3 linked regions of the Homo sapiens genome follow. The protein of the gene in region 3 purifies or fractionates together with the protein of the main gene of each other region. This does not show direct contact. Each region holds a gene or a part of one and is shown on either strand. Other genes may lie near its edges.

Region 1 (3,653 bases), on a different chromosome or scaffold from region 3:
TATAGAGTTGTTATATCATGGGACTAGCAGAACACAAAATAACAACATAAAATAACAACTAATATGTAGAATATTCCTCTAGATTATTGTTGTCCTTTAGGTCAAGATAAGAGAAGTAAAAGAACCACTTACATTTCACAATGATGAAACCAATTACCAAAAACATAATTTCCTACTTCATTAATGGTACTTTCACACTGACTCTAAAAGTAGAAAAATTGAGGAAAACTAGCAATTACATTTTGGTGATAATTACCCTGCAAGTTAGTGACAGATCAAAGATCAGATAAATTTCCTGACTCTGGTTTTGTCACAAGCAAGACTGATTAAAACTTAAAAAAATGGTTCACGTAATCAAAATGAATTGTAAATGGTAAATGAAAATTACTAAGCATTACCTACACTAAAATAAATGTTTGTAAGAGTAATTACAGCACAAGAAATAAGGAACAAAAGGGTGGTTTATATGAGTAGAGTTTTAGGTTAAAAAGTTGCCATCTTTGCTCTTTTATTAAAATAAACTACCTTTTAAAACATTTTTATTCAAGAATGATTTTTATTTTCAGGTTAAATATTAATCAACTATAAGATGTCTCGAAAAATAACTCTGAGGGATTTATAGCCAGCATTAGGTAGGCAGGCCAACTCAGACTTTACTAAAGTAAAACGTTAAGTAGTTTTACCTTTTCATGAAATGCTGTGATCAGCCAAAGATCCACATCAACACTGGTGCCTCGTTTTTCTGCACCAATGAACTGTAATATGTTCTCATGCTTCATTCCAGGCAAACTGTAGACTTCGTATTCATTTTGCCATGACTGTTTGTCCTAGAGTCAAAAAGAAAGAATAGTAAGAACACAAGGAATACAGGTTTAATAAACCATGCATAAGAGATTACTCAAATAAGTTCCAAAGTAAAACAAAACAAAACAAAAAAGTCTTAAAAAATTTTTTGTTCTGTTTTGTAATAAGAAAAAGCTCTGACAATAGGTTAACAAATTTATACTAAATGCCTGCCCTTTTCATTCCCTCAAAACGTACTTTTCTGTGTTTCTAGTTTACAAACACAGAAGGTGATCGGAAATGCTGCATTCTGTGTCTTACAATGGCAACACGTAAGTTACTGCAAGTATTACACTGTAATTTCATCATGGTGTGAAGTTACTTGTGGTACTATTCAGAATAATCTCCTTGAAAGATGAAATTCCGGCAGAATGACTTCCTCTAAATAGAAAACTTCTTCTTTTCAAAAACTAACATAATATCAAACATCCTTCAAAAAATGTTTAGCATACCCTACAAGGTCTATGAGAAAGCAAGGGGCAAAGATATGCAATGCAATAATTTAAGACACCATATATTCACTTGTGCCTGCAAGCAATCCATGTCTACTAAGTATCTACTTATAAAAGATTAGCTTCTTTTCACTACTAAAAGACAATAATAGTAAGAGGCACTATGGCATAATGGTTAGAAACCCTTAGAAACTCTCTGCATCCAAACTGTCCAAACTTAAATCCTGGCTCTCCCACTAACCTCTGGCAAGTTACATAATCCTTCAGTGTCCTCATTAAGTAGAAAAGGCATTGTAGTGTCTGTCTTATAGAATTGTTGTATTATATGTTGCATTTTATGTACATGTGGGTAATATACGTACACATATTAGTGAGTACTCATATATGTAAAACACCCCTACCTGACCCAATAAAAGCATACAATAAAATGTTAGCTACTGTTGTTGCTGTTGTCGGGCTTGTTAATATCATCCAAATGCCTTTCTCTGAGCTTTATGCTTCCTTACACATGGAAATAATTTCTTCCCTTATCTTATTTATGAATCTTGGCACAACAGAATACACTTTCTCTCTGAAAACTAAACTGTGGTTTACAGCTACCAAAAAAAAATGTAATACAGTTCATAAACTCTATGTAAACAGTTTATAGACTGAACAGAGGAGGTAAGATTGAACAGAGGAGGTAAAAAGGTTAAAATCTAGGTATATTAAGACAAAGAAACTGCTTATATGATAACTTTGGAAAAAGAAACATCCACTCTCTAAGTATGGTGGTAGAGCCTGCAACACCAAATCCAGCCAAGACGTCAGTACCAAGGGTATCATGAGCTGCCAGGGTATATAAGCAAGAGATGGGGAAGACAGAATCATCATAAATCTATACCACCAACGGAACAAAACAAAACACAAGAATAGCTCAGAGGTACATTAGATCAGAGTTTTATGAGAAGTCCAGCCAACCTTAAAAACAATTCAACAGTAAACCAATTATTTGAAGTCTCGATTGCCTCTGAAAATGCATCAAACAAAAACTGAAATAATTAAACACTCAAAGTAGAATGAAAGTAAGTCAAGTCTGGTGATATACCTCTAAATACCAATTCTAAAACAAAGTATACTGCTCTTTTGTTTTTTTGTTTGCTTTCTCTGACAACGTAGGGGGATATTAAAATTTAACCACTCAATTAGACTTGTTTATTGGAATCTTTATCTTTATTTAACATTTCTATTAGAATTTTCACTGGCAAAAGATCTACTATGCATTCATTTAATTCCACCACTCCAGACAAACATAATGATTGTTATATTAACAATTCCATTTCTCAGATGCAAAGGCAGGCATTAAAAGAGCTAACTGCTTTCCCCAGTATCACAAAGAACCACCTTGGTACATATGGCTTCTGTTTTGAGACTATTTCTGAGTTATGATGACCTAGCCATAAAACATGTATGTAAGATGACAAAACTGCAATAAACATACCTGTATTGGAAATATTTTGACAGCCACATATTCGTTAAGCAACTGGGCTTTCCAGACACAACCAAATCTTCCCCTTGCTTTCACTTCTAATAACTGCAGTGGTTTCAAACCTAGTAATGGAGAAGGTGGGGGTGGTCCTGGGTCCTACAGATAAATAATAATAATACTATAAATAAGCAGAACATGACACACACCAACTCTGAAAATGAGAAAAAAAGTGAGTATACTGAAAAGTCAACTGACAGAAACAGTAAACACATATGAATGACATTAACTTCAATGTTGCCATAATTAGATTACTAATTATCTATAGTGATCACAAGGCAGGCAACCTGAATTCAGAGTTTCATAATAATGTTCAGCATTATTGCTATATATGTACCACAGGAGAGAAGATCTAAAATCTTTCTGATCAGTCTCAGTAATATTCCCCACTAAGATTTTCTGTGAACTACGAAATACTCCTAACAATATTTCATTTGTTTCATCCAGTGTGTACTTCGAGGAGGATGATTTGAAAAGTGCCAGAAACAGCAAATTATGACTATATATCAGCAAAAACCTCTCCTGAAGATCTATTACTTTCTCCAGTGACTGTTTAAATTTTTTCTTCATTAATCTCAGAGATACCGGCAGTCATTCTTAAACACATTGCAGATAGGTATATCAAATACAAAGCACATACAGGAAATATGTAAGTAAATATTTCTTTAACCAAACTGGTTCATTCTAATTTTAAACATATTAACAATTCATCCCTTTGATCTGAGATAAAAAATCATTTGTGTTCTGGAACTGACTGACTGGCAAAGAAGTACGAATAAAAATCCAGAAAAGAAGTGGTCATCATAGTAGATAACAGGATATGGTAAATGAAA
Region 2 (3,653 bases), on a different chromosome or scaffold from region 3:
TTAACATACCCTTCAGAGATGGAGAAGCCAAACACACAAAAAAATCTAGAACTTTGAAACTAGACAGCAAATTTTATTTTATTTTCCTTTATGGGTAAGCCACAAAGGACATTTAATAAATTCCAAAAAATAGAAATTACACAAGTCATATTCTCTGACCATAATGCGATGGAAAAAGGAAGTTTTAAAATACTCTTCTCAGCTGGGTGCAGTGGCTCACACCTGTAATCCCAGCACTTTGGGAGGCCAAAGTGGGGGGATCACTTGAGCCCAGGAGTTCAAGACCAGCACTGGCAACATAGCAAGACCGTGTCTCTATGGGAAAAAAAAAAAAAAAAAAAAAATTTAATTAGCCAGGCATGGTGGCTCATGCCTGTAGTCCTAGCTATTCAGCAGGCTGATATGGGAGGATCTTTTAAGCCCAGGAATTTGAGGTTAGAGTGAGCTATGATCATGCCACTGCACTCCAACCTGGGTGACAAAAGGAGACCCTGTAGCAAAAAACCTCACAAAAAACAAAAAACATCCTTCTCATTAACTTTTATGTTAAATGTAAATAAAGGTGATTAGACTATTTTGAAATGAAAGACACTGGGAAGATCACAGGTCAAAATCTGAAGAGTATGGCCACAGCAGTACTTAAAGGAAAATGGGACCTTAGACATATTTTGTTATGAAATCACAAAGATTGAAAATATATAAATAGTTAACTCTTAAGATGGGTAAGTTATTCCTAAACAACACACAACTCCAGAAGTCTGAAAGAAAAAGATTAACATATTTGATTATATAAAAATTTAAAACTTGAACATAAGACATCAAAAACAAGGTTAAAAAACAAGCAACAGACTGGGAAAAAACATCTGCAGTATCCTTTAAGACAAAAGACCTGATGTCTGTATTATATAAAAAGCTTTGACAAACTAGTAAGAAAAAGAGACATTATAGAAAAACAAAGAATAGAAATAGATAATTCCCAATAGAAGAAATGGCCAATGACCACATGAAATGTTCAAAACCAATTAATATTCAAGGAAATGCATTAGGTCATTTTTTAAATAAATATTTCTTGAGTAATATTCTAGCTAACAAGTAACAGACAAGCATTACATTTATAATATAATGTATTTGGTTTATGGCCGGGCATGGTGGCTCACGCCTGTAACCCTGGCACTTTGGGAAGATGAGGAGGGAGGATCACTTGAGCCCCGGAGTTCGAAACCAGCCTGGGCAATACGGTGAAACCCCATCTCTACAAAAAAAAAAAAAAAAAAAAAAAAAATTAGGCGTGGTGGTGTATGCCTGTAATACCAGCTACTCTGAAGGCTACTTGGGGGGATTGCTTGAGCCCAGGAGGAGGCTGCAGAACCCTGATCGTGCCACTGCATTCCAGCCTGGGTGACAAAGCCAGACCCTGTCTCAAAATAATAATGATAATAGTAATAGTAATAATTTATTTGGTTTAGAGGATAATGATACTAAAGATATGTTTACTATAATTGTACACTGAGAAACACACATGAAAACCAATGCTTTTTCATATATTAATTGAATAAACACAAGTGCTAGGGATACAGTGTCAAAAAAGAATAATAGGACACAATGAGATAATATTTCATACCCACTAGGCAGATAATATTAAGTGTTGGTGAGGATGTGGAGAAATTAGAATCATCATACATTGCCGGTGAGAATGTAAAAATTGTACAACCACTTTGGAAAACAGCTGGGCAGTTCTTCAGAAGGCTGAACAGAGAGTTACTACAATACTCAGCAATTCTACCTTTAGGTATACACCAAAGAGAAATAAAAACATGCTCAAACAAAAACTGGTATGCTAATGCTCATAGCAGTAGTATTTAAAATAGCCAAAAGTAGAAAAAAACCCAAACATCTATGAACTGATAAATGGGCAAACCAAATGTGTTATATCAATATAAGGGAATATTATTAGCAATAAAAAGGAATGAAGATCTCCCAGCACTTTGGGAGGCCGAGGTGGGTGAATCACCTGAGGTCAGGAGTTCGAGACTAGCCTGGCCAACATGGTGGAACCCCATCTCTACTAAAAATACAAAAATTAGCTGGGCGTGGTGGTGTACGCCTGTAATCCCAGCTACTTGGGAGGCTGAGGCACGAAAATCACTTGAACCCAGGAGGTGGAGGTTGCAGTGAGCCGAGATCGCACCATTGGACTCCAGCCTGGGCAACAGAGGGAGACTCCGTCTCAAAAAAAAAAAAAAAAAAAAATGAAGCACTGATATGCACTATAACGTTGAGGAATCTTAAAAACATTATGCTAAGTCAAAGAAGCCAGTCACAAAAGGCTATATGTTATATGATTCCATTTACAGAAAACGTCCAGAATAGACAAATCTATAGGAGTGCAGTTGCTTAGAGGCTGAGGGGATAAAGAAAATGGGAGATGACTGCAAAAGGGCACAGCATTTCTTTTTGGGCTAATGAAAATATCCTAAAATTGATTGTGGTGATTGTTGCACAACTCTGTGAATATAATAAAACTCACTGAATTGTACACTTTAAGTGGGTGAATTGTATGGTACGTGACTTTTATCTCAATAAAGCTATTACCAAAAAAGTATAATAGGAAAGAGGAACAAAACTTTTAAAAGATTTTAAAAGTAATTTATATATTATTCTAACCAATCAGTTATCAAACTTCATAATATAATAAACATCAAAAAGGAGTTCTCTTGAAACAGTCAATTTTATTCAGTTCTGGTGTCTAATATACTAATAATCAATGAAGAATATAAGGAGAAAGTGATACAATTACAGTCTCAGCAGTGGAATTTATTGAGACAATACATTTTAAATTTAAAAATGTATTCATAAAGCTTATTTATTTGTATTATTTTTAATTTAAGGTTTACTATTGTTTTTCTTGAAGTAATTTTTCCTGCCCTTGTTATTAGGGTGGGCTTTATGTACTATTTAATCTGATTTCCACACATATTATTAAACTGGTATTTAATATCTACAAATAATAATTTTGTCACTATTTTCTCAGGATTATGACCAACATGCCATGAAACTGTGATCCTAGTATATCACGCCTGGACTTGATTTTTAAAAAGCAATCATATTCAAGTGACTGTGTCCTTAACAGTGATTCCATTAAGTGAACAACAAATTTACGTTCAGCAGTGATTGTGAGAAAGAAACACAGGGGAACTTAGGAAATATAAATAGTTTCAGTTTAAAATCATGTAAAAATAAAACTATAAAATTAATGGGATTTGCATCAATTAAAAATTATTAAATAATATACTCTTGCATACTATACATTGAATTTGGCTACAACCTTCTCTGCTTTACATACATTTTTCAAAATTGACATAGATTGTATGAATTACAAACAAGTTCCGAGAGGTGATTTTACTACATACATTTCCATACTTCAGTCTTCATCTTACACAAAGGCAGATGTGACTTAGGGGCTCTCTGTCCAGGACTGAGGTATTTACCTGACATATCTCAGATATCAGTCAATCAACTGTCAGCATTTATTGATCATCTTCCAGGATATTAATGCTTTGCAAGCATCTCTGGGTAAGTGACTAAAGATTTCCTTGGGGCAATAGGAAAGAGGCTCAGATTCTTCTAACCGATGATTTAAAAAATATTTCAGC
Region 3 (4,187 bases):
AACTTTGCCTTCCTTGGACAATGTATTGCATTCTCTTCAGGAAGAAATGGCAAGAGATACAGAGATGATTCCCCAGGCTACCTTCTATTCACTTTGGGAGTTAGTGGAAGACTGCCCTCTTTCCAACACAGTCTCTGATGAAAGGGATCTATTAAAAAGAATTGCGTTGGTTTACACTGCAGATTGAATGGAGCATTAAACGAATGACTGCATTAGTATGACTGCAGTGGGGGTAATGGTCGCCTCTGTAATGTTGTAATAATACTTTCACATACGTGTTATTACACGTATTAATTGTTCCAGTGTCCGTATCTAATTTATCGCGAAATGGTATCCAGCATCTCTCAGGCAAATGCCCCCCTCCCAACTCCCTGTGCCCTACAGTTTTATGCCCCCCGCCCCCGGCAAATGTAAACAGATGAGGAAATATGTGTACTTTCAAATCGTCACCCATGTATCATGAAGGTGGGGGATTACTGCAAATCACTTGGAAACCGCTCCCCGGAGGCGTTTAGCGATACCGCCCACCAATACAGCTCAGATGTTCTTAATTTGATCACCCTCCACCTTTTGGGCTGTAATTTTCCAAACAGGCATCTCTCTCATTTGCAAATAAAAGTTACAAATCAATCCACGGGTACAGAATGCTGACTTCCCGACACTCAATTTCACAGGGTGTCTCTTGAAGAGCTGCCAGGTTGTGACCGATAATGGGGGAGAGGGAAAGGCGGACAGCGAAAGCGAGAGAGAGAGAGCGAGAGCGAGAGCGAGAGAGAGAGCGAGAGAGAGAGAGACAGAGAGAGGAGAGAGAGAGAGAGAGAGAGAGAGAGAGACAGAGAGAGAGAGAGAGAGAGAGATCACTTGCTTCCTTGCTTCCTAAGCCGGGATTTTGCCTGCGATGCGCGGCGAGAGGACTGCGGCGGCTGATTTACACAGTTGGCGCGGAGGAGGGGCCGGGGGTGCGGGGGGGACGCGCTGGCGGAGCTCCGGCGATGGGCTGATCTGGGGGCTCCCGAGCGCCGCTCCCTTGGTGCGCGATTTGGGGGCGGCTGATGGATTTGCATTCAGGTTCCAGCCCTGCGTTTCCTATATTGACTCCTTATACACGACCTGGCGCTCCAGTTTAGGAGGAGACGTTGGTAAGTAACGTGTAATCCGATTTTAGTTATTTCCTAGGCCATTAAAGTGGCACTTTTAAAGCAGGTCAGTCTTAAAAGATGCCGCCGCCGCCGCCGCCGCGAGCGTCTCCTTGGCCTGAAACGTTCAGCAGTCCCCTCCCCCTCCCACCCCCCTCCCCCGCACCTTCTCCCGCTCGAGAAGTGAGGGTGCTTGAATGGTGAGCGGTCAGAGGACTCACTCTCTGCCAACGGTATCGCTTCACCTTCGTGCTTTGCCTGAGATCTCCCAAATCCAAGTGGAATTTGGTGTGCACAGCCATACTGTGTATTTGTATCTTCTCTCCCCCTCTCCTTCTTTCCCCCCACCTTCGCCGTCTGACCAATGCTGGGATCTGAGATCTAGTCGCCCCCTTCCTGCCTCCTTTCCGCCTCTCCCCACCCTTTTCTTCTCTCATCTACACGCCACCAACCCCCACTCCCACCCACCTAAAGGGCAAAGAGCAAAGACACCCTGGAAAAGCAAGGGCTAATTCCATCTTCTCGGATGGAAGGAGGCCTCGGGCAGGGATTGCGCTGTGAGTGACAACCTTTGAGGAAGAGAGAAAGAGAGAAATCCAGAGACTGAGCTCAGGCTCTCGGGAACAACGAAGCTCTCCACTGATCCAGAGCACCGAGATTTTAAATCAAAGGAACCTAGTCCTGGGACACTCACTCTGCCTGCCTGCCTACCAACCATCGAGGGCATAGGGAGCTGTGGTCGTGAGCTCCCTGTCGCTGGCATCGCCGCGCTAGGTGCGCGCCCCGCTCTCCCATTGGTATGCAGCGACCATTTCCCTGCAAGTCTCAAAGGTGGAAACATTTAAACGGATTACAAGCGTGATTCGGTAGCCTTTCGGAAAGTTGGTGGCCAGAAGAGGAGAAGCTACAAGGCTACAGTATGATGGATACAATTCAGCTTCGCAGAGAGTTTGCCCCTCCTGCTGGGTAGCCCCTCGCAGCAAACCTCGGAGATCCTGAGCGCTCTGCACCATAGGTACTCGCCGCCATCCTTTCCTACTTCGCCTAATTGAAACCAGTATTTCTCGTATGTAGGATGTGCATTGTAGAGCACATCGAGTTTGGCCGCGGTGTATTCTGTACGCTCACAGGTGCTAGGGGTTTGTTGCAGTTTTGAATTGGATCAGTTAGGTGTAAGGACGTTGGTGGAAGGAGGGGTACCGGAGACTAACATACCCTCGGACCTCTTTTCTGGGTGAAGACATCGTAAGTAACTCCAACAAATAGGCCAGGTGGCGGAGCGAAGGACCCCTCCCCCAGTGGAATGCTCGCTGGTGTTGTAAGAGGTAGAAGGAAAAAGGCTTGAGCTTTTAATAATTTTCCGTTTCTAAACAGACCATTGTGCGTTTCGCCTGACGACAGCAGATTAGAAAAGGCTCTATAGACGGCTCAAAGCTCTTCAGAAAATGAATGATGCAGCGTTTTAATTATTTGTTCTAGGGAAGATAGTTTTGCTTCCATATTGGAATACTTAATCTTAGATCTGAAAAAATTAGTGAGCTGTAAGATCCAGCAGTGGGGAGGAGGAAGTGGGAAGGGGGCACAGCAGGGAGAAAGGGCTTCTTGTCCTCCCTCTGGACAAACAAATGGCTCTGGGCGCTCCCAGCAGGACACGGAAAAAACTGGGGCCCCATGGCTCAATATTCCCTAACTTTTGGAGCCCTCCCTGTCCTTTAGACGCGCTATCCTGAGCTAAAGAAAAGGAAAAAGGTGAGATAGCCTTTAGGACACAGCCCAGGTCCAGAACGTAAGGGGTTTTAGTTCAAGAAATAACAGAGACTTCATTGCCGAGACAACATTTACCGTCATCTGGAAGCTCAGGGCAGCCTCCGGGTTACCCATCGATTCCATCACATCATGGGTTCCGATAACACCCGATAAATAGTCACCGCCTCTGCACATTGGGTACCCAAAGTGCTGGGCGGGGGATGGGGGGGAGGGTGCGGGTGCCGGCAGCTGGGGAGGGAGAGGGAATTGCTCTGATTCTGAGCTTAGGCTATCGGTATTGGTTTACTTCTTGGCTAAGACCTATGGGAGCAATAGGGTGAGTCTGGAATATTAAGGGTAGAATGTTAGAAAATTCTGCCCTCCTGCTTACTTAGTGTATGGTGGCATGTTTCTAAAATTAGCTACTGTCTGCCAGTGGACTCCTGTGCGGTCATTTTAAATGCAAAATATCATGGAAATTGCCTTTGACTGACTTTTAAGGAACACATTGTTAGGTGATTTACCTGTTTTAGAGCAGTAAGAAATTGACATGTAAGCTGTGCTTTGCTTTAAAATTTGCTTTTGTAAAGGGTCCATTAAGGGAAAACCATCTCTACCTACTAACTTTGAGTCCTTGGGCAATTGAGGTTCAGTTTAGTTCTTTAGCAACCAAAAAGTCCCTGCCTTCTCCCCTCCCGGCGAGGAGTTGGTGACAGGATTGGTGTGTGCTGGTGGGGGCAGATGGGGAGCATCCACAGCACACGGGTCCTGTTGATTAGACTCCTTTGCTGCACACTTGGCTCTCCCCAGTTTCCCCACCAAGCTGCATTCCTTCCCAGCAGGCAGGACTGTAGTGCTGTCAGCTGAGCCTTAAAAAAATTCCTCTGAAAGCGTTCCTGAACTGTCATCTGGTAGTCCCTCTACAATACAATATCTTCCTTCAATCACCTCCACCCCCACTCCCACTACTCCCTAGGATTCACTCCCCGAAAATTTCACGGAGAAATATTTGAGTTTAAAAAATAAGAAAGAGAAAGAACGGACAAAAGCATCCAAATCCTTAAATCCACCCCAATCCCGCGAGGTCTTTCCCGGTGGCGCAATGTGAAATGTACCATTGTTACCCAAGTGGTCTGTATCTCCTTCCAGAGAATTGGCTTGTCTCTGTTTTTAAAAAGTGGAAGAAAAGAAATGCTGTTGAATCCAGGGGCTATCGAAGGCTTTGACCTGCAGCACAACAAAAGAATTCCTGGTGCAACGGGATCGAAGCAAAATGCAGGAGAAACTCGGTCCAAGTCTTTCAGG

What was found.
Region 1: the proteins of SLITRK3 (region 3) and ACVR2A purify together in Homo sapiens (affinity purification with mass spectrometry; one large-scale study listed by BioGRID and IntAct). This does not show direct contact.
Region 2: the proteins of SLITRK3 (region 3) and VAMP4 purify together in Homo sapiens (affinity purification with mass spectrometry; one large-scale study listed by BioGRID and IntAct). This does not show direct contact.

The regions. Positions count from the first base shown.
Region 1 is NC_000002.12:147,914,457-147,918,109, reverse strand, and holds part of ACVR2A (activin receptor type-2A isoform 1 precursor), read right to left. Parts: intron 2,920-3,653; coding exon 2,776-2,919; intron 828-2,775; coding exon 684-827; intron 1-683. UniProt on the Homo sapiens protein: On ligand binding, forms a receptor complex consisting of two type II and two type I transmembrane serine/threonine kinases.
Region 2 is NC_000001.11:171,732,039-171,735,691, forward strand, and holds part of VAMP4 (vesicle-associated membrane protein 4), read right to left. Parts: intron 1-3,653. UniProt on the Homo sapiens protein: Involved in the pathway that functions to remove an inhibitor (probably synaptotagmin-4) of calcium-triggered exocytosis during the maturation of secretory granules.
Region 3 is NC_000003.12:165,193,544-165,197,730, reverse strand, and holds the start of SLITRK3 (SLIT and NTRK-like protein 3 precursor), read left to right. Parts: upstream 1-1,346; 5' UTR 1,347-2,151; intron 2,152-4,187. UniProt on the Homo sapiens protein: Suppresses neurite outgrowth.